Linked DNA regions of Homo sapiens. The main gene of each other region encodes a partner of the protein of the gene in region 3 in a complex. Each region holds a gene or a part of one and is shown on either strand. Other genes may lie near its edges. The genes, in order: FBXW11, FBXW7, SKP1 and FBXL5.

Region 1 (7,044 bases), about 38 Mb from region 3:
CCTGTTCTTCTCAAAACATTTAAGGGGCCATGAGACTTATACCAAGAAAATAAAGGGGGGGGGGTTAGCTTTTTGCTGGAGGAGATGCGTAGTATTTTTTCTGCAGAAGGTAACAAGAAGAATATTGTGTATCGGCCTTGTCCATTGATATCTGCTGAGAGGATTTGGGGGAGAGTAGAACAAAGACTGATATTTCTTGAGTGAACTTCTTATTTACCTAGCTCTTTACGTATGCTGTTTTTTAAACTTTCGCAGCAAGACTGGGAGGTTCCCTCTATGTAAAATGAGGGTATGTAGAGTACCTATCTCAGAAGGTTATTGTGAAGATTATATGATGTAATTTATTTCAGACATTTAATATCATTCTGATATTATGGAAGACTGAGATCCTAAAAGGAAAACTGATCTGCTTAAGGTCACACAACTAGCAGTTGACAGAACTGAGATGCAACCTAGTTTTTCTGACTTTCAGGCAGTGTGTTTTTCACAAGACTAAAACATGCTGCCTCATAGAAGGAGGAAATGCATTTAAAGTATCAGACAAAGGAAATAGGTCAAATCTCATAGATATCACTGAGATGTTGCTTAATTGGACTGATGGCATTTGAAAGAGGAAGAAATAAGTATTAGTAAGGGATTTATTTCTGTAAAAACTCATGATAGCCTAGTTGTGAGCAATTGATGGGGGAATCAAAGAGGACTAAAAGGGATATCATTGCTATAAACCAATAGTTCCTAATACTTCAGCATTATCTAGTGGCACTTCTTAAAAATACAGATTCCTGGCTGGGCACGGTGGCTCACACCTGTAATCCCAGCACTTTGGGAGGCCGAGTTGGGTGGATCATGAGGTCAAGAGATCAAGACCATCCTGGCCAACATGGTGAAACCCCATCTGTACTAAAAATACAAAAATTACCTGGGCATGGTGGTGTGCGCCTGTAGTCCCAGCTACTCGGGAGGCTGAGGCAGGAGAATCGCTTGAACCCAGGAGGTGGAGGTTGCAGTGAGCTGAGATCCCACCACTGCACTCCATACTGGCGACAGAGTGAGAATCTGTTTCCAAAAACAACAACAACAACAAAAAAACCACACCCAGATTCCTGGGCCTTACCGTCTAGAGATTCTGATTTTGTAGGTCAGGAGAAGATTGGGGGGATCTTTTCTTTTTGCTGTTGTTTTGAAAATCAGTAACCCTGAGTTGAGTCAGATACAACCACACAGGCTTATAGACCACCCAGATAGGTTGAAGGTTTGGGTGCTGCTTTCCCGTCACAGATGATGGGGATGTTGCAGCCTTTGAGGTTTGAAAAGGCGAGTATCTAATGCATTCTTTTTATTTTTTATTTTTTTTAAAAAAAGACAGAGTCTTGCACTGTAACCCAGGCTAGAGTGCAGTGGCATGATCTCCACTTACTGCAACCGCCACCTCCTAGGTTCAAGTGGTTCTCGCGCGCCTCATCCTGCCAAGTAGCTGGGATTACAGGCGTGTGCCACCATGGCTAATTTTTGTATATTTAGTAGAGATGGAGTTTTGCCATGCTGTCCAGGCTGGTCTCAAACTCCTGGACTCAAGCGATCTGCCCATCTTGGCCTCCCAAAGTTCTAGGATTACAGGTGTGAGCCACCATGCAGCCCCTAATGCATCCTTGTCTTGCCATTTGTTTCACCTTTCAGAGAGCAGAGGGTTCTAGAGAGGAATTAGTTTGAGATGTGTTTATAACCAGTTAGGAGGATTTGGGTTAATGATGTGAAGTTTACATTACTTTAAAAGTGGCTATGTTCTCAGCCTGGGCAACATAGTGAGATCCTGTCTCTACTAAAATTTTTTTTAAAAAAAATTAGCCTGGCATGGTAGTGCATACTTGTAGTCTCAGCTACTAGGGAGGCTGAGGCAGGAGGATCACTTGATTCTGGAAGGTCAAGGCTGTAGTGAGCCATGATCATGTCACTGTACTCCAGCCTGGGCAACAGAGTGAGATGCTGTAATTAGCTATGTTCTAATATTAAGTGTAGAAATCAGAAAAGGAAGATAGATAAGTACCCCAGCGTTAGAAAGATTGAAAGAGCTAAGTCTGTTAGTCCACGGCTAGAGACTGAACAAAAATGTGATAAAAGAAGGCTGACGGATTCTGCAGTTTGAAATTCTGATGAATAATTTGTCAATCCTAGTGATGGAGAGGCACAAGCAGAACCCCACGTGATTATCCTTGGATTTCCCTGATTTTAAGTAAACATAGAAGATGGAAGAAAGGCAGCCAGGCGCAGTGGCTCACGCCTGTAATCCCAGCACTTTCAAGACCAAGGCAGGAGGATTGCTTGAGCCCAGGAGTTGGAGACCACCCCGGGCAATATAGTGAGACCTCATCTCTACAAATGATAAAAAAAAATTAGCTGGGTGTGGAGGCATGTGCCTGTAGTCCTAGTTACTTGGGAGGTTGAGGTGGGAGGATTGCTTGAACCCAGGAGTTTGAGGTGGCAGTGAGCCATGATTGTGCCACTGTACTCCAACTTGGGTGATAGAGTGAGTCCCTGTGAAACCTTTGAGAATGGTACCAAGAAGACCAAACTCCAAATAATGTTAAATTGTCCAAAATGTTGAAGTAAATTGAAAGAGTTGAAAACAAAATAATTAACTATTTGGAGCCAGATTATAAAGGATGAAGGGATAGTGTGCTTAGAATAGATAGTATAGTGATAATAGAAAGAAACAACATATTTTCACTCCCATTAACCTAATCCCACCATCCCCCCAACCCAAGAATAATGGCTTTAAAACAAAGGTTAGCAAAGTTGTGTTTGAGAAAGATGTGAAGATATTTAGCAATCACATAGCTCCTATAGACAAGTAGGCCTAAATACATTGTATGCCTGGATAGTGGCAAAACCTGTGGTTGTGATTTTTCAAATTGTAGAACATTGTGAAGCAATTGAAAATCAGTATGCAGAACTATTGGGTACAATTGTGCCCTGTACAGCTTGTACAGTTGCACATGGTAGTCTTGCATGATAGCACCAGAGATGATTGATGAGCAGACTTCCTGGTTTTAAGAACTGGAGAAGGTGTTTTTGGGGGATTTAGCTATTAAATTTGATGTTGTGCTTTAGCAGAATTCTTAGATGAGTTTCAAAGGCTAATCAGCCTCTGAAAAGATTGTGTATGGTTGTGTAAACCTAGAAGGATGTATACAGAATGTGAAAAGTGGTTCCCTTCTCTGGGAAATGGGGTTTAGGGATTTAAAAATTTTTGCTCATCTACACTTTATAAATTTTCTATAATGAACATGAACTAGATATGTTTAAAAGGGTTACCAAGCAGCTAGTGTCAACATGTAAGTGAAAAATTGCAATACAACTTTATGTAGTAAACCCCAGCACGGGAACATGAAAGCAGCCATACCCTCCTCACCTTATTTCCTTTTTGGATAAAGTTACCAGGCTAGTAGGTAGGTCTGAAGAATGATGTAAATAGATGGTAATATCATCATCTGCTGATTTTTCCAAATACCTCCGAGGACAGAATAGAGAGATATGGACTGGGCAATGGCACATATAGATGACTACAGACCGGATGTCGCAGTGTGGGTGCCCTGGGCATATTGATGCGGCATCAGTGCTAGCTTGGAGGGAAATATTATAATAATAGGTACTAATAGCTAGTGTCATGGGTGCTGTCCTTGGTTCTGACCCGTTTAACGTGTTTGCCAACATGGTTTAACATGTTTGCCTTAGTACTTTAGCCCATCATGCAGGTCTGGTGTGGAATACCCACTCTTCTGGGTGTGACAAAAATCAGAATTCTAGAGACTGAAATGGATGGGTCAGACAAAGCTTTGAAGGTGAATTATAGTAAGGATAAATATAAACCGCACAAAGCTGCCCCCCACCTTTCCAACTAGCTGTGCAAATAGAGCATTCGGGGAAATTGTTTCAATAGATGTTTTTGGGGGAGAGGCCTGGGATTTTATTCTAACTTACTGCCATCTTAGGCGTCTTCTGTGATATGACTATCAGATGAAGGCAGTGCAGCCTTTGACCACATTAACTGTAAATGACATGCAGGAAAGGACAGTGGTCCCAGTGTAGTCTTTATTCTTAGACCATAGCTTGGGTCTTTGATCTAGTCCAGAGTAAGAGAATTTTAGTATATGAAGGACCTGGAAATTATAACCAATGGTATAATAATAGTCATTCTTAGAATTGAAGGAACTTTAGTTTGTAAAGCATTTTTCATGCATCATCTCATTTTGATATTTTCAGAATCAAGTAGAGATTATCGTAATCTTATACAGATGAGGAAACTGACTCTGAAAGTTTAATAATTTACCTACATCTGGCCTTTCAACAACCAAGTTTAGTGCTATTATACTACTTCTAATTATTTTGAGAAAAGAGAACAGATATTAACCTTGTAGAGTGCTTGTCTATAAAATGTTTTCATAAAACTGTTGAATTTGATTCTGACAGACAGTGTAAGAAAGGATAGTTGTTACTGGTGATTACCATTTTGTATGTTAGGGCACAAAAATTCAAGGCACAGGGATGTTTCAGTGTTTGTTTCATGTCATAGAACTAGTAAGTGGTGAACCTGGGACTTGAAATGGGAATTTTCTGATGATAAGTTCTGTGTTCTCGTCCCTACACAGAATAAGCTTGGGGAGAAGCTTTATTTCTTGCAACTGTAGAAGACATACTTACCGCCACAGGATGGGAGTTTACAGGTGGCAACAGTGGTGGCCATGTTGATCATCTTCCCATTGTGAATGTCAGGCAGAGGCTGAAAGTGGTTTTCTTTGAGAGTATCCTTGTATCGTGGGAGGTTGAAGCCAATGACCTCTAAGATTCTAGGATTTGTAGACATGGGGCTATTGCTTTTGAGGATTGTCCCATCTGTTTAGGAACAGAAAATGGATACTCACGAAAGGGAGATGAAAAGATTGACAAAAATACATTTAAGCACAATCGACTTTAATTCTTGGATTGCCATTTAACTTTTCATAAGTTTTTCAAGATGAGTCGGTGTTTTGCCTTTTTTGTCTTCTGATCTCCCAGGGATTCACACCGGGTATGGATTAATGGGGATATGATTTGTTATGAGAGACAGTGAGTAAGATGGGAATGAACACAAACTTTGAAGCAAGAAATCCGAGTTCCAGTAGTAAAGCCAAGGGAGTGTAAAATCTTGAGTTCTTTACCTTTCTGTGCTTCATCTGTCAAACTTGGGGCGTCATTGCCCTATAGGAGTGCTGTGAGAGTTATATAAAAGAAAATGAAAAGTCTTATCTTAATATTTGACAAATAACAGAACTGTCCAAGGTCAGCTTTTACACACAGAGAAGAGTTGCTATCAATTGTTTTATCGTAAAAAATCAGAACCAAAAAGAAGTGTATATGTTTATGTACTCATGGATTTGAGTATCTGTAGAACTTTTGATATGACTAAAATATTTTACTTGGTTCAGGATTTCTTTATTCCTCTTATCTTTAAGGAAATGATGGCTGGTACCTTTCTATCTCTCTTCCCGTTCCTTCATTCCCTTTTCTGTTTTGTAGAGCAAGGCTTAGATCACATAGCAGAAAACATTCTTTCGTACCTGGATGCCAGGTCTCTGTGTGCAGCAGAGCTGGTATGTAAAGAATGGCAGCGAGTGATCTCAGAAGGAATGCTTTGGAAGAAGCTGATTGAACGAATGGTACGCACTGATCCCCTATGGAAAGGACTTTCAGAAAGAAGAGGGTGGTAAGTACTTGGGTTGCTTGTTCCCTTGAAAAAATTTTATTGACATAGAGTCAGCTTGATTACTCAAAAATGCAATTATACTTGCAAATGTGCTGGCCTATTTTTAAAAAGGGGGGAAAATGAGTGGTCAAAAGTTGGAAGAAAAAGTTAAAGCTGTTAAAATTTCTCCCTCTGAAATGTGTATTTCCTTTATGAACTGTATTATATAGTTTGATGGGATTTGGCGTTTCAAAGCTATGTATTTATGTTTTTTCCTTCACATTTTGCTTAGTTGATGATACCATTACCAAAATATAGATATGACAAAAATATGAGAAAGTCAGATAGTGCCATTTTGCTGTTTGTTATTACTGCTGGTTGAGGAAGTAATAACAGTGATAGGATTTTTCAGAGAAAACTCATAACTCTGATGCAGCTTTATAGCTAGCTGTATGCTGTATGGCCCAGTTAGCAAAGAGAGAGAGCTACAGACAGAGGTGCATATAGGGCTGTATTTTCCTTACGGGAGGAAGTTTGATGTGTACTAAGTTAGATTTTTCACAAAGCTACATTAGCGCTTTTTATTAAACTCTATGGAATGAAAGGCTAGATTGTTACATATTAGTACTCAGAAAACACGATCAGGATTTTGTTAGAGAGCTGTGAATTGAGCTAAACTTGTCTGTAACATGTAAATTTGTCAGAAATCCTGCTTTTGAACTGTTAAAACTCAATGCAAATTAAAAGACATGAAAGATATATCTTTGTCAGCACCATGTTTAGATAAAATTCACCCTTTTATGTGCAAAAATGTAACATCTGTTTGTTTTTATTTGCCAGGGATCAGTACCTGTTTAAAAACAGACCCACAGATGGCCCTCCAAATTCATTTTATAGGTCATTATACCCAAAGATTATCCAGGATATAGAGGTAACTTTATGATTTATCTGTTTTATGGGCTCTTTGTTTCTTGTTCTCAACTTTTTATGTTGCCTTAGAGTGTTCTTTTGGTCTAAAATCGTAGAACTAATAATTTTTTTTAAAAAGTTGAGCTTTTGGAGTAAATGTGTCATGTTGTATATAATCTGCAGCTATTCTGCAGAGAAAATAATGTCTTTTGCAAAGAATATCTAACTTTTCTAAAACATGAAATGCTTCTGCAAGGCTGCCGGTTAATTCAAACCTTAATCTAAAATCATCTTTTTATTCTAAGCTGATAAATTTTCCAAAATCCAAGGCCCCGTTTTTTTAAGTAAGCATTGTTTTACATTTTTGAGCCATCTCTAGAGAACTAGAGAAGGCACATTTCAAGTTTTCTCTGTAC
Region 2 (3,093 bases), on a different chromosome or scaffold from region 3:
ACGGTTTGGGCAGTAACGTGGTTTACTCTAAAGACCCTGCACTTCACGGCCTAGTAGGATTTTTGCCTTGCATTCAACCAGGTAGTTTTTTGTTTTTTTCCTTTACCCTGTCACTTTTCCTTGCTATTTTTGTGTCTGTAATTTGCTGTGGACTAATAAACCAAATAACCAAATGTACAGGAATGGTATCTAAAGCAATGGTTCTGAAACTTTAGTATCCACAACTCACCTGGTGAGCTAGTTTAAATGCAGGTTCTTGGGTCACACTCCCAGGTGTTCTGATTTAGTAGCTTTGGGAGAATGAGGCCCAGGATTTGCCCTATGAGTAAAGAACACATACTTTATGACTATGAGAAAAAGGGGAGTCCATTTTCAGTAGCTTTTATATTTTCATCTACGGCCTGGTTAGTTGAGATTACTGGATGTGTGTATATATATATGTGTGTGTATATATATATATATATATATATATCTCCTGCTATTTGAGATACTAAATATATTTAGAACTAGTTTCAAAAACAACTTTATTTTTTCCCCTTACATCATAAAATTTAGATTTTATAAAATTTAGATTTGTTGAACAAAACGGCTACAGAACAGTCAGAAAGTACCAGAAAAATGGCTTATTTCCCTCTCAAACCTTGCTTTAGTCTGTCAAACTTTCTTAAAGAGCAGCATGTATTTAGTCTTTGGAAATATGGGTTTGAGTTCTGGCATTCCGCTAGTTCTATGATTTGACAAATTGCCTAACCAGTCTCAGCTGCAGATTTTTGCTCGTCTTTAAGATGGGAGATAATAGTGCCTACTTCTCAGGGATAGTGGGAGCTTAAGAGAGAATGAACAGAAAGTATCGAGGGTAAGCACTTAATATGTGGTCAAAATTTCAAAATGAATTTGTTATTTATAAGGCTTCTAGTTGTAATTATCACAAAAGTTTTGTGGATTCTTTGAGGGAACCAGATTTCATATTTATACACCCCAATGCAATCTACAGAGATGAGCACAGTGGAGTGTCCTCCTTCATAGTCTAGGAGAGAAATAAAATTTGCAGTTGCAGCACATTATCCTTACTTTCGCGGTATAAAACAGGCTTGAAGTATTGATTTCTATGTCACACAGCAGGATGCAAAGAAACCAAGATTTTGCTTATTTAAATATTATAGACAAATCCTAAATACTTATAATGAAGGATTATTACTTCAGTGGAAGAAACAGGCATACTAACATGAAAAAACACATTTTATTGCACTTAAGTTATAAGAAAATAAAATTTCTAAGTGAATCAAACCATAGACACAATCCCTTTAAAGGTTGTTTTCCTCCATCATGTCAGGTTGTTACATAACTAAAATTAACCAACTTGAATCTGATTGTTTTAAATCAGACTATAAATAAAACAAACAAAAAAATAAACAGAAGGAGGAAAAAAGATCGCCTAGGATACAGTGTTAAACCACTTTCACAGTTCAGCTTGAGTTGTGGCTCTTGGAGAATGAGGCAAACCATTTGACTGTTTCATTCATTTTGTTTGTTTGCATGTGACGCCTTTACTACAAAAACTGAATAGTTTCTGCTTTGTCAGTTACTCAGAGCAATAAAACTGTAACAGTTGTTTTCCCAAATACTGTAAAACACTAAGACTGACCAGCAACTTTATTTTAATTTTGTGTTTTATATATTTTTAAAATATTTTGTCAGTTTTACGATGTACGTTCATCCATTCACCACAGCCCTCAAAAAGAAAAGTTTCTCCACAGAACAGGCAAGTAATAGCTCTGTTCCAAGGAATGTGTTTTAATTTTTGCCCAGATAAAAGAAAATAAGCTTTGCACACACTCTCAATTCTTTACTTGCAGGCAAACTTCACTCTTTATTATCTGAAACTCTTCCATTCTCAGCCTCTTAGAGGCACAGATGGCTCAAGTTTCAGTGGCAAAAAGTCTTTTTTCCATAACCAAACTAGAGCAAATTTGGAATTCAGTCTGGGACTAAAACGTCACAGCAGAAAAAAAATAAAAAAAAATAATTTGCTTTTTTCTTTCTTTCATTTAGCAGCATAAATAAGTTTGGCCACTGGGAGTACAGTACAGGGTTGGGACAACAATCCCATATTTGAAGACCTACTTCTAGCACCAGCATCAAGAATTAAATCCATCTCAGGACTCACAGAACCCAGGACAACTTGCCACCTTTGAGCAACATATGCATTGAAGAATGTATATGGAAGCAACAGTAAATAGATTAACAGAGGCTAATACTGTGATTGATTGACATTGGCAATGGTTGGCAAAAAAAAAAAAAAAAAAGCTTTTCATGATAACTGTACAAAAACAATTCACAGTAATTTTTTTAAGCTTTTCCACTCCAGAAAAATGACTTTTTGTTGCAGATGCTCTCTAATTAGAAAGTCAACCAGTACTTGTTTTGATATTATTGCAGTTCCTTTCTAGGTGTCTAGCTGTCAGTGGTAAAAGAACAGGCTAGCAGAATCTGTAATGATGTTTCAGCATTAACACTGCCCAATGACCACTGGAGAAGAAAATAAAGAAATAATTGCACCTGGTTTGATTTAGAAAGTCTCATTTTGCAAAGCTGCCCTCAGTCAAAAGTGAAGCCTTTTATGTGATGAGACAGCAGACGCCTCTCTTGTCAGTTATGGTTTGTCATCTCTTCTTCTTTTCCTTCTTAGTCTGTAGGTCTTTTCAATCTGTTGCCCCAAGCCAACATCCTGCACCACTGAGAACAAGGGATTTTTTTCTTTTTCTTTTCTTTTTTTCTTTTTGCAGGGGGAAGGGCAGGGAGTATATCGTCTACACAATTGGACAAATTCATCTTTTCTGCTCTTCACTTCATGTCCACATCAAAGTCCAGCACCAGCAGCTTGGTTTCTTCAGTCCCATTCCGACTCCCAACTGCACACACCAGCTTTGTGTTTGAGGCTCTGATCCGCCACACAACTCCCCCACTCCCCCCACTCTCCAATGTGACTAGGTTTCGAATAAATTCACCCGTTTTCAAGTCCCATAGTTTTACAGTTCCATCATCTGAGCTGGTAATTACAAAGTTCTTGTTGAACTGTAAACAGGTCACAGC
Region 3 (4,560 bases):
CTGCCTGCCTCACCTGAGAGCTATGCCTATACTCCCATTCCAAGCTTTGCTCTTAACCCCACAATGATGCAGGCCAGCCTGCTCCCCAGTGCTCATATAAGAATAAATGAGTTGCCAACTGCCGTCCATAAAGGCTGACAAGACAATTCAACCTGAAATAGGTACACATGACCACTAGGCTCCATTTTCCTCTGAGGGCAGAGAGAAAAGAAAACATTCCACAAGTGCATATCCTATTTCAAGGAAAACAAGAGCAAACGAGTCTTTTATAACCTATTAGCACCACAAAATCCTAAAGGAGGATTTTTTAATAGCACCCCTTCCTCCCAAAGACTGCATCTTTTTTTTTAATTATTATTATTATACTTTACGTTTTAGGGTACATGTGCACAATGCGCAGGTTAGTTACATATGTATACATGTGCCGTGCTGGTGCGCTGCACCCAAAGACTGCATCTGTTAAGACGCAAAGTATTTTTCATATTTTCACACAAGCCTTCAAGTTTGATAAATCTATTACCCACTTTTTAAAAAGTTACATACGCTGTTGGTGGACACGACAGCCACCATATCCACTTTATTTTTAGATTATTTGTATACATTTAGGGGGTACAAATGCAGCTGTGTTACATGAATATATTGTGTAGCGGTGAGGTCCGGGCTATTTTTAGATTATTTGTATACATTTAGGGGGTACAAGTGCAGCTGTGTTACATGAACATACTGGGTAGCGGTGAGGTCCGGGCTTTTAGTGTGCCTCTCACCCAAACAGTGTACTGTGCACGTAAGTAGTGTACATTGTACTCAACAGGTAGGATTTCATACCTCATCCCCCTTTCATCTCCCACCTTTTGAAGTCTCCAATGTCTATTATTCCATTCCGTATCCATATACCATGTGTACTCACTGTTTAGCTCCCTACAACCCACTTTTTACATGAGTTTCCACCAAGTACACTGCTGTCTTCCTGAGACCTATCATGAATGTAAAAGGTGTCATGAAGGCACCTCAATAGGTCAGTCAACAAGTAGATGATACATGTCAGGCAAGAAGTATTTCACATGGGACAGCCACTGGGCCACCATCATGCATTGTCATTGTCACTCCACTGAGTTCTATTTTTTGGATTTTGTGTTTAAAGTATAAAGTCATTTTCCAGAACAGCGTCTATTTAAAGTAGGCCACTGGAAGTTGTAACCCCAGACTTGCTTTTGCTTCTGAGAGAGTGCTAGAGGACACTAGCCATTCTCTGGACATCTGTCCCATTTTAAAGAATTCTGTTCTGGCTACTGGCCTAGTTGTTTAAAAAACCTACATTCTAACCAGGGCTTATGCAAGACCAGGTTGCTGCATCTGATTTGGTGTCTCACTTAGAGTACACAGGGTACCTGAACAATGCAGTCTTTGTGTATTGGCGGGGAAGTCTTTGGCAACTCTGTTTAAATCAGATCAGCTTTTTTTTTTTTTAATCTGACTTCATAAAGGAAACTCAGATCCTCCCAAATCACCCTGGTGCATTCCTGCGAGGCCAGAGGGTGACTTGAGATTGCAACCTCAAGTTCAACTGCTAATACCACACCAGTCCCCCTTCACTGCCAGCTGAGAACCAACCCTGTTTCCTGAGACATCATAAGACAAGATACCTTAGCCTCCCTTGAACATTTCCAGACAACTAGCAGACTGGCAACTTGGGTGAAAGACGTTCATCCCTCCCCTGGTACAGCTGCTCCCCATTTTGTTCTCTGTGGATATGGTGAGGGTTCAGCCCAGCAAGCAGACAAAGCCTATGTCTCCCAACGTGAAGGTGTCTACTTTAACAGAACCCCATGGATGGACTCTCTTCTGACATGTAATTATCTTTTGAATGGCTCCTGTGGTCTCCCATTCCTTCTGGCTGTGGACCCCTAACAGCTAGCTCAGAAGCACTGCACCCTAGCTTTGTTCAGTATACATAAGCCTGGCCAGGAAGGCCACAAGTAAAGGGAAGCGGAAGGGTTCTTTATATCCTGTTCCAGAGAGGAAGAAAGGGAATCAGTTCCTGCATCCGTTTCTCAGAAAACAGCACAGAACAGAAGGGGTAAGGGTAACAAGGCCATGTTAAACTACCTCTTAGGCCTATATGTCAAAGTAGAATTTAAGACCCAAATCTAGTTAATTGTATAAAAAGGCTAAGTTGGCTTTTCTTTGAGGTTCTTTGAGAGTCCTTAACTGCGACTCTCAGATCTCTTCAGAGCATTTTTTAAGCTCTTCAGGGCTTTAAGAGTTCACCAAGGGTTTCTGAAACAGCTGCCCACCCAAGCAGACCCTGGTTGTGTCAACTCCCCCAATCCCAACTTATTGTGATAACCTTGTTCCAAATCTCAAATCACCCTATGGGCATCTTTCAAATTCTGACTCCTGAGCTCTTCTCTAATAGTTTGGAGCTACTAACAAACCATTACTGGCAGTGAGCATCTGAAAATACTCAAAACGGCACCGAGTTTGAAAACAGGAAACATAGATGGTGGGGATGTTCACATACACAGTCCCTTAGAATAAAAGCCTAGCTCAGGTCAGGAAGGATTTTCAAGCTCTTAAAGATAGCATGGGATTAGGCATGTTAACTGGAAAGGGAAAACTTATGTCCTGGGGGTGGGAACTATACTATCACAAGCAGTCCTCACAAGTTAGGTCACTATTGGTAAGGGATGTTTCACTTCTGAAGACAAGATAGCAGCTGTGAATTATGCGGGAGATAGTCCAGGCCAATACTTCTTTCATATTCACCAGGGGCTCTGGACCAAGTCTTCCTTTTTCATTCAAGTGTTCTCATTCTTTTATCTGAAGCCTAGTTCTTTCAGGCATGTGCAATGTCAGGAAGCGGGGTGGGGCTTGGGGAGGGAAGAGGAAAAGCCAGGTTCCACTCACCAAAAATAAATAAATAAATAAATAAAAATTTTTACAAAGCCACTCTGGAAACCCTGCTTGAGTACTTGAGGATAGAGTACAGCTTCTCTATTTTCCCACCCCTTTCCGTAAGCTTCCTGGAACAGAAAAATCTGCAAAGCAACTGAAGAAGGCAGTTAGAGGTTGTGAAATGGTACATTCAGGAAAGAAAGGACAAATAAGAATTTTCACCAGATAGGTGGGAGGTATTCAAAGTGAGAGCACTTTAAGGAAATAAGCTGATCCTCAGTGTGCAATAAGAGGCTGCTATATAGCAGGTTGAAAATTTGAAGTTAAGAGATATCAGAAGGTCTGAATATACTTAAATACTTCCAGAAAATTTAAAGTTGACAGATATCAGAAGGTCGCAAGAACTACAGATGTGGAAGCAGACACTGTTATGAGCAACTACATTCCTCCCATAGAATGCTGCTCAATACTGGCACACAGACCAGAGGTAGCCAGCAGTACACAAGACTGCAAGGCAACAAGTACATTATCAATGAATTAGCCATCTATCACTCAAACTATGTCCCGCATTGGAAGTGTGTCAAGCAAGAGCACCTTCGACAACACTTTTCGGCCACCACTAATGATCATCTCCACTGATGCCTCAGCAGAAAGGATAACATTCAGCCAATCCTGCTTAGGTGTCCAAATGGCTCAATCTTGGGCCAAAGGACATGCTCTGAAATATTTCTTACACCATACTTCATCTTGATATGCACAGCCAGTTCTCTTACTCATTCTCTGTGACCACTGGAGGTAGTGATTTTTAACAACAGTAAACAAGAAAAAGTCATCAGGACTCTAACTGTAAAACCCCCAACATTCAAAAGACTGGTTTAGTTGAACAGCCAAAAAATAAATAAATAAAAATTAAAATTAAAAAAATTAGAATTTAGCTCACTCAAAAATTGCCCTGCCTAATGTGGGTCTGATGAATAAATGCTGATAAAATACTACTGAGTGTCAGCAAAGTACTGTGACTAATCCTGCCCTAATTTCTCTTTAGTCTATATTCTCAGGGAAATGTACCAACACCCAACCTTCTGCTGTTAGTTCCTGACTGTGCACTGCTTTTTCCTCACTTTGGCATCTGTCCACCCCCAAACAAATCCAACTTGATTCTTGAAACCAAATTAGTTTCACTTTACAAAACCTTTCGTAGCACCTTTCAGCTCTGTAGCCCCCCATTGGCTCATTAATCTGTTCTGTCCAGAAACTTTTTTTTTTTGAAACGGAGTCTCGCTCTGTCGCCAGGCTGGACTGCAGTCAGTGGCGTGATGTCGGCTCACTGCAACTTCCGCCTCCCGGGTTCAAGCGGTTCTCCTGCCTCAGCCTCCCGAGTTGCTGGGACTACAGGCATGTGCCACCACGCCCAGCTAATTTTTGTATTTTTAGTAGAGATGAGGTTTCACCATGTTGGCCAGGATGGTCTCGATCTCTTGACCTCGTGATCTGCACACCTCAGCCTCTGAAAATGTTGGGATTACAGGCGTGAGCCACCGTGCCCAGCCCAGGAACATTTTTATTAGAGTTATCCACTCCCTCCCAGCAGTATTTATGCCTTCTCTCCTGAACTACACCAAAAGCTCCCAGCTCCCTAGAGGGAAACCATGTCTAATGCTTCCT
Region 4 (7,050 bases), on a different chromosome or scaffold from region 3:
TAACAATTGTTGAAATTAGGACTTTAAATATAGCTTGTTTGGATTAGTTTTTCTTAAAAACCATATATGTATATTACTGAATAACAGGAGTATTTTGGTTTGTAAAAACTTTTCAAATTCTCATTCATGCAGCAAGAAATATTTTATGCCTACTATGTATGCCTACTACTTGTTCAGGGAATGTAGATAAACATTATTACATAATGTCAGGTACTTAAAACTGCTAAGAAATTAATTATTTTACTGGGTACCCTTCCATTTATGACATTCTTCTGATTTTTTGTCATTAAATATATTATTTAGTTAAAGCACAGGAGGGACTGAAATTAATGAGGAAGAAACATTGATCACTGCAGCTGATTAAGGATGGGGTGGATAGTATGAAACTGAGTTTAAAAGCTGGGAAATTCCAAGAACAGTAATCAGGATTTATTCAACTTTATATCTCAAGCTCCTGCTGCATATTGGGTGTCCAGTTTAACGCTGAATATGAAAAAATTAAGTCTCTGGAGTCCCAGATGGATAATTTTTCTTAATATTTAATGCTGAACTTAAGGGCCACTTCTACCAGAAAGCCCTCTGTGGCTATCGAGAAAGTAGATTAAGACATCATCCTGTATGTGCCTGTCTTAGTCTGTTTTCTATTGCTTATAACAGAATACCTGAAACTGGGTAATTTATAAAGAAAAAGAATTTATTTCTTACAGTGTGGGGCTGAGAAGTCTATGGTCAAGGGGCTGCATCTGATGAGGGCCTTTTTTCTGGTGGCGACTCTGCAGAGTCCCAAGGCAGTGCAGGACATCACATGGCGAGGGACTCAGCATGCTGGCACAGGTCTTTCTTCCTCTTGTAAAGCCACCAGTCCCACTCCTATGATAACCCATGAATCCTTTAATCCATGAATGAATTAAGCCATTCATGAGGGCAGAACTTTCATGACCCAATCACCTCTTAAAGGCCCCACTTCTTAATACTGCCTTATTGGGGATTAAGTTTCAGCATGAGTTTTAGAAAGGACAAACATTCAAACCACAGCAATTCCTAAATCAGCCTGCTGCAGCAGTTGTTGATTGACTATTTTGATGGACAGTAAGGATCAACTCTGGTACTGAGTGAGGACTATGATTCCAACTGGGTCAAAACGTAAACATTCTTTCATTGCTTGTTTTCACAACTAATCCCCTATTAGGGAAAGTGCTGTGTCACATACTCAAACGGAGTGAAATGCCTTAGAATTGACCCTCCCTGGCCAATAACCCTTTCCAGGGTTCTCAAAATTAGGCTTGGAAACTACTATAGAAGAGGCCTATTGATAACAGAATAAGTTATATTTTTAGGTTGCCAGAGAGAGAATGAGAGTAGGTAAGAGAAACGACCAATTCTACCAGTTATTCTACAATGTGGGTTTTCACTGCTCTGTTCACATGCCTTATTCAGACTTCTTGTGGTGGTCAATTGCTAGATGGTCTGTTGGAATTATCTGCTGTCATACATCCAAAAAGGTCTCACAGAGAGGTAAAGTGACAACCTTGGTCTTAATAACCCTCCCAAATCTGCTGTAGTTGCAGTAACCTATGGTAATGATACTACACTGATCAATGACCTCTTTAGAGCTAAAGTTCAGTAAAGTCAGTCATTTATTTTGGATATATCAGGTGATTAATTGCTACATAATTCAGCATATGGAGCTAATGTTAATAGCTTTCCATGGGAAAAATTACTCACAGGGATTATTTTTAAAATCACTTTCTTTCATTTTGTCATCTAAAACAAATTCCTTGAAATGGCCAGTGTCCAAAGTGGCTGTTACTACTTTTCAGCTGATTATAGAGCTTCAAATCTGGGTTACAGTGAAACTGTGTGGATGGACTTTTTTTGTTGTTGTTGCCAAATACCTTTTTAATGTGTCTGGTTCTACAGATGGATACACTAGTGAACAGCACAGACACAAACAGTTGATTGGACAAGACAACATAGCATATTAAACATTAGTAAAAATGAGGAAATTACACAGTGCTATGAACTACCCTCATTCTTTTTTCCAACATATTTACTGAATACTCACTTTATGACAGACATCATTCTAAGTGCTGAGGATAAAACAAAGTGCATGTTCTCATGGAGCTCATTTCTCTATATAACTGGTTCACCTGAGGTCTGATTCTGCATTCCAAGATAGCTGGAGTGAAAGATTAGTATGAGGTAAAGAAATAGAGGGTAAATAAGAAAATGCTCTCTGGAGGTTATTAAAAAATATAGAGGCAAAGTCCTGGCAAAAGAACGAGAAACGGGGTGAAAGGGAGAAGGAGGAAGAGAGAAATTAATCTTTATCAAATATTTTATTATTATTCTATTTCTTAAGCCTTATTCCTGCTTCTTAAGACAGACTGTGAATAAGCCATCTCTGTATCCCAACTAATGCAATGACTCTGGGGGTACTGTCAGATCCAGATTTATATGACAGATTTTTGACTTACTAATTTGTGGGACCCTAGGCAACTACTAGAATGTCTTGAAGACTTAATTTCCTGCAGCACTACCTCATAGAGTTGCTTTAAAAAAGTATTACTAGCTTACAGACGGTACTGTTATAAGTGCTTCAAATATATAAATCCTCATAAAGATTCTGAGGTAGGTATTATTAGCTTCATTTCATGTCAGAGCAAACTGAGGCATAAAGAAGTCATATAGCTTGTTAACGGTTGTATAGCTAGTGTCTGGCAAAACCAGGAATCTTAACTTCCAGAGTCTGTGGTTTAACCACTGTTCACACTGTCTATAATAGCATATAGTAATATAAGATTAGAACTAAATAGGGTGCATTCCACTGCAAAGTTCTTTCTCACCTTCTTCTACTCCATTATTTGTTGACTATTTACTGATCCCCATGTTGTCTTGCAACTGTGATAGATAATAGAGAACAAGGGTGAACACAGCATATCTGGTTCTTGCCCTCCTGGAGGTTCTGGCCATTAAGCAAATAACAATTCCTCCCAAGGTTCTCAGGCTTCCCTGTTTTCTCCTATTTCTCTATCTGTCCAGCAGTACTCCAGCCAACCAATCTAAGACTGACCGGCGTGAGCAGAGAACAGAGTCTCCAGGAGGTCTGTGGCCAGGGCCAGGCGATTTATGGGAAAGAGGCAGACATTTTCCTGGGTTAGTGACCTTGTTTTCTCTCCGAACCTCCGCTTAAAATGGCGGGATTTGTACCAAGGTTCTTTCCCGCACCAACCTTCCATTATTCACCCTTCTCCCCACCCCCAAGGCCCGTCGGGCCTATCCCTGACCCGCGTTCCTGCACTTGAGGTGCATTTCCGCACCTGGATCCCCAGATACTGTTTTTCCCCCACGTTGAGTCTCCCGAATTTCACGAGAACTCTCTCTCGCGGTCTCTGCCCCGCCCCTCGCACCCAGGCCCCGCGCCCGCTGTGGGCTGCCGCCCGGGACCGAAGCTCTCAGAGCCCGCAGCTCTGGTTCACCAACCGCTGGGTGGGAGCCAGGCCCGGCCTTTGAGTGGCGGCCGGGGTGGTCTGCGCTCGGCCCCAGGAAAAATCTGGCACGGGCCAATCGCAGGGAGGCGAAGGGCAGCTCCGGAGGTCCTGGCCAGAAGCATTGGTCACCCAGGCCAAGCAGGCGTCGGGGCGTGGGCACAAGCAGAGCTCGCGGCCCTGACCGCGGCCATTGTGCTTGGCTGCCTCTCCTCAAGGCCGTGGTGGGCAGGGCAGCAACGGGAGAAGCGCCGAGAGCGCCACTGCAACGACTTTCCCCTACCCTCAGCTACTGTGCTTTCATGTAGTGAAAGAAACAGGGAAAAGGTTTGGGTTCCTTCTGCGGCTTATGAAGACGACAAAAAACGAAAAGAGTGGGGGCGGGAGGCAGAAGCCGCGAGCCTCTGCGCGCGCCCGGTCACGTGGGCCGCAGGGATCGCATGGCGGCGGCCTGCGCGCCCCCGCGTCCCCGCCGGCCAAGCCGACCGGGCGCGCGCGCCGACGGGGCGGGCGCATGCGCAAGGGGGCGCGCCGCCTCTGCCCCGCGGCGAGGGTGTCTATGGAGAGGCGGCGGCCGCGGCTGCTGAGGCGGAGGCTGAGGCAGTGGCGATGGCGCCCTTTCCTGAAGAAGTGGACGTCTTCACCGCCCCACACTGGCGGATGAAGCAGCTGGTGGGGCTCTACTGCGACAAGGTAACGGAGCGCTGAGCCTCCCGCTGTGGGCGGTGCGGGCGGCGATGGGGAGCGGGCTGGGTTCTTGGGGCGGCCTGGCCTGCGCCGCGCCCGCAGCCCCGTGCCGTCGCCGCGCGAGTAGCCGCCTGCGCAGCTGTCAGCGCCGCCCGCTCCCGCAGCCTGCCCGCCCGCTGCGAGGCCTTCGCAGAGCCGGCCTGGCCGCCGCCTCGGACGTGCTCTCGGGGCGGGCGGCGTCCCCTGCCGAGGGCCTGGCGGCTGAGGAGGGGCGCTACCGGCGTCACTGGCCGCCCTCGGGCCGGCCCCACCGCCGCGCTGGGACTCCCGCTGCTGCCTCTAAGGAGAGCGGCCCTACCTCCTCGAAGCCCTGGGTGCCCCGGCCGGCCACCTGCGGTGGACTCCCATCTGCACCGAGTAGTTGTTCCCGTCCCCCGTCACTCCCCCGGGCCTGTTCGGGGCTCTCCGTGCAGACACCCACCCATCCTCTGCACCTCTCGCTGGCTTCCTGGCTGGAACTGCAGCGTCTCCCAGCTACCCGGTTCCTTTTACCCCCGGCTTTCTTCACTGGTTTGATTTGGGAGAAAAGCCAAGTTTAGAACTGAAGAACCTTCACTCTTCATGTGTCGTTATCGTTTTCCTTGCAACTTTTATTGCCCTGAACACTTACTGGATGTAGATTTTGTTATAAGACAGCAATTCTCTCTTGGATTTCTTTATATGAGCTCGAATAAAGGGGGCCTCAGGAAAAGTTGGTTTAACTGTGAGAACCATTTTGGGCCCATAATTGGTGCAGCATAAGCTGAAGAGGCACTTTTGTGGAGATGGTTCAGGGCCCTTTGCTAGTGATTTTAAAACAATATTAACATTCCACGTATTTGTCAGTTTATGTTGGGGAAAGTCATGGATATCTGCAAACCTCAGGCAGTCCCGTTTCTTGTGGAAATGATCCAACTAAATAAAGCATTCAAATGACTACTGTTTAAGCATAGAAATCAACTTTTAGGAATTCTCAGAAATTGCATAGCATTATGCAGAACCATTGTCTACAGAAAAGAGGGGTGTTTCATAGCTCAGCCAGGCGATTGGAGGATGCCCAGGGTATTCACTGTTAGGCCACACTCAAGACCAGCAATTTAAAGCAGTGACGTTGAATTTCAAATCTTAGCACTCCATCTTCTCCCTCCCTCCATTCTGAAAATTTAGAAACACCCAGTTCACATGAGTTGGAAACACCAGGACTGTCTAGGACAATGGTTTGCAACCTTGGTTGCTTATTAGCCTTAAACTAAAAACTATTAGAAGTCCTGATGTCTAGGTCACTAAAATTAGGATTTCACCCAGACATCAGGTATAAATGATTAAAGCTCTCCATTTGAGTGCAGTATGCAGCTGAGGGTGAGAACCACTCATCTAGGAGAAGCATGAGGAATGGTTAAGCCATTAAGCAAGAGGGTATATCCCTGAATTTTTTACTTAGCAGTATTATAGTGTTTTTATCCTCTCTGGCTTTTGAATATCGTTCATTCAGACACCATTCTTTAATAGCAGGAAAGAAAAAAAAAATGGTCTCAAAAATCGAAAGTGGAAGTGAAGACTAACAGAATCCAAGGTTTTCTCTCCACTTTAGACTGTGGAGAGGTAGCCTAGGATCACCTGAAATTATATGGAAAATTTTGTGCGTGTGTCCATTTTCCTAGGGTGTTTGTAGCTTTCATCGATTTCCAGATGATTGTGACCTCCCAAAATAAAGAATCACAATTTAATTTACTTGCAGACTAAGGCTAAGCAGCCTTATTTTAAAATTTTCAAGAAGTTAGTCGCTCTTTTTCTGTCTCTTCCTGGTGGTTGAGAGTATTTGAACAAATTTTGAAAATGCAGTTGCTTTTTTACAAGATATCTGAGCCAAGAGTCTTTTCAGTAATGTTCCCACTTGCATAACTAGTTTAATAAAGCATTTTCAATTTGACATGGTGTAAGTCAAAATTATTACTAATTCTGAATTAATTAGATATAGTTAATGAGATTGTTGTATACGTTTATCACGAAGATTAAAAGTCCAATTTTCTGAACTGAAACTGAGGCGATTTAGGGAAAAAAAAATGCATAGGAATTTTACATCTGGATTTCTTCTTGATACTGATAGCCAATGGAAATCTCTCTTAGGATGTCCTTTGGGAGCTAGAGTGGAAAATAAGTATTTTGTAATGGTTCAGTAATCTTAAAGGAATTAAAGGAAGAGTACCTTGTTTGTTTTTATCCATTTATCATCTCACGTTTTGCCATCCTTTGGTTGTATAGACCAAGGATATCCAACCAAACAGTTTACAATAAAACTATATAAAATGAGAACTAGTTTTTATGCTCAGACTAAAAAGGTACAAAATAGTTATTTCACTGTACAAATTTGGGCTCTGAATGCCCAGTTATTATCAAGAAGTCAGTTACTATTTTCAATATTGAACTTCTCAAGTAGAATGTATTTTAGAAGCATCCATTTATTTACTAGCATCAAGTAAACCACTTATATGCTTAAGCCAGTTAGTATAATGTATTCCAAAGTTATGTTAGTCTACTTATTTTTTAGGTATAAAGGTGAATAGGATGAGAAAATAAATTTTCAAAAGCTGACAGATGTATGTCTTAGACCATTTTAAATATTGCTGTACAATACCCGATTTAATACTTTGCCCATGGATTTCTTTTTACATCTGTAAAAAGTTTTATGGAAAGGTTTTTCACCTTTGTTATCCAGACAACAGTGCTTTGAGTTATGTAAAGACAAGGTATTTCTGTTTTATAGCTGGGGACTTAGAGGCCTAGATTAGCTAGGCCAAGGTTACATAAGCAGCTAGTGGTAGATTCAGATGGAAAC

Evidence for each region.
Region 1: the proteins of SKP1 (region 3) and FBXW11 are in contact, whole or in part, in a crystal structure (PDB 6WNX), measured with the Homo sapiens proteins. Residues at the interface, in NP_733779.1 of Homo sapiens: Asp96, Gln97, Gly98, Leu100, Phe101, Glu102, Ile104, Leu105, Asn108, Leu116, Asp117, Cys120, Lys121, Val123, Ala124, Ile127, Lys128, Gly129, Lys130, Pro132, Ile135, Arg136, Lys137, Thr138, Phe139, Asn140, Ile141, Lys142, Asn143, Asp144; in NP_036432.2 of Homo sapiens: Met114, Leu115, Gln116, Arg117, Asp118, Phe119, Ala122, Leu123, Gln126, Leu128, His130, Ile131, Ile135, Tyr138, Leu139, Ala141, Arg142, Ser143, Cys145, Ala146, Ala147, Glu148, Leu149, Val150, Cys151, Lys152, Trp154, Gln155, Trp164, Arg206.
Region 2: the proteins of SKP1 (region 3) and FBXW7 are in contact, whole or in part, in a crystal structure (PDB 2OVP), measured with the Homo sapiens proteins. Residues at the interface, in NP_733779.1 of Homo sapiens: Gln97, Leu100, Phe101, Ile104, Leu105, Asn108, Leu116, Asp117, Cys120, Lys121, Val123, Ala124, Ile127, Lys128, Gly129, Lys130, Thr131, Pro132, Ile135, Arg136, Phe139, Asn140, Ile141, Lys142, Asn143, Asp144, Phe145, Thr146, Glu149, Gln152; in NP_001336727.1 of Homo sapiens: Pro274, Phe276, Gln277, Arg278, Asp279, Phe280, Ile281, Leu283, Leu284, Pro285, Leu288, Tyr291, Val292, Leu293, Phe295, Leu296, Pro298, Lys299, Asp300, Leu302, Gln303, Ala304, Ala305, Gln306, Thr307, Cys308, Arg309, Tyr310, Trp311, Arg312.
Region 4: the proteins of SKP1 (region 3) and FBXL5 are in contact, whole or in part, in a cryo-EM structure (PDB 6VCD), measured with the Homo sapiens proteins. Residues at the interface, in NP_733779.1 of Homo sapiens: Phe101, Ile104, Leu105, Asn108, Leu116, Asp117, Cys120, Lys121, Val123, Ala124, Ile127, Lys128, Gly129, Lys130, Pro132, Ile135, Arg136, Phe139, Ile141, Asp144, Phe145, Glu149, Val153, Arg154, Glu156, Asn157, Gln158, Trp159, Cys160; in NP_036293.1 of Homo sapiens: Ile205, His207, Leu208, Pro209, Val212, Ser215, Ile216, Tyr219, Leu220, Gln223, Glu224, Cys226, Arg227, Cys228, Ser229, Gln230, Val231, Ser232, Met233, Trp235, Ser236, Lys240, Trp245, Arg315, Leu316, Gly319, Leu320, Asn323, Val324, Tyr327.

What each region holds. Positions count from the first base shown.
Region 1 is NC_000005.10:171,898,610-171,905,653, reverse strand, and holds part of FBXW11 (F-box/WD repeat-containing protein 11), read left to right. Parts: intron 1-5,553; coding exon 5,554-5,740; intron 5,741-6,559; coding exon 6,560-6,650; intron 6,651-7,044.
Region 2 is NC_000004.12:152,320,037-152,323,129, forward strand, and holds the end of FBXW7 (F-box/WD repeat-containing protein 7), read right to left. Parts: coding exon 2,845-3,093; 3' UTR 508-2,844; downstream 1-507. UniProt on the Homo sapiens protein: Substrate recognition component of a SCF (SKP1-CUL1-F-box protein) E3 ubiquitin-protein ligase complex which mediates the ubiquitination and subsequent proteasomal degradation of target proteins.
Region 3 is NC_000005.10:134,148,395-134,152,954, forward strand, and holds the end of SKP1 (S-phase kinase-associated protein 1), read right to left. Parts: 3' UTR 541-4,560; downstream 1-540. UniProt on the Homo sapiens protein: Essential component of the SCF (SKP1-CUL1-F-box protein) ubiquitin ligase complex, which mediates the ubiquitination of proteins involved in cell cycle progression, signal transduction and transcription.
Region 4 is NC_000004.12:15,652,335-15,659,384, reverse strand, and holds the start of FBXL5 (F-box/LRR-repeat protein 5), read left to right. Parts: upstream 1-4,027; 5' UTR 4,028-4,097; coding exon 4,098-4,181; intron 4,182-7,050.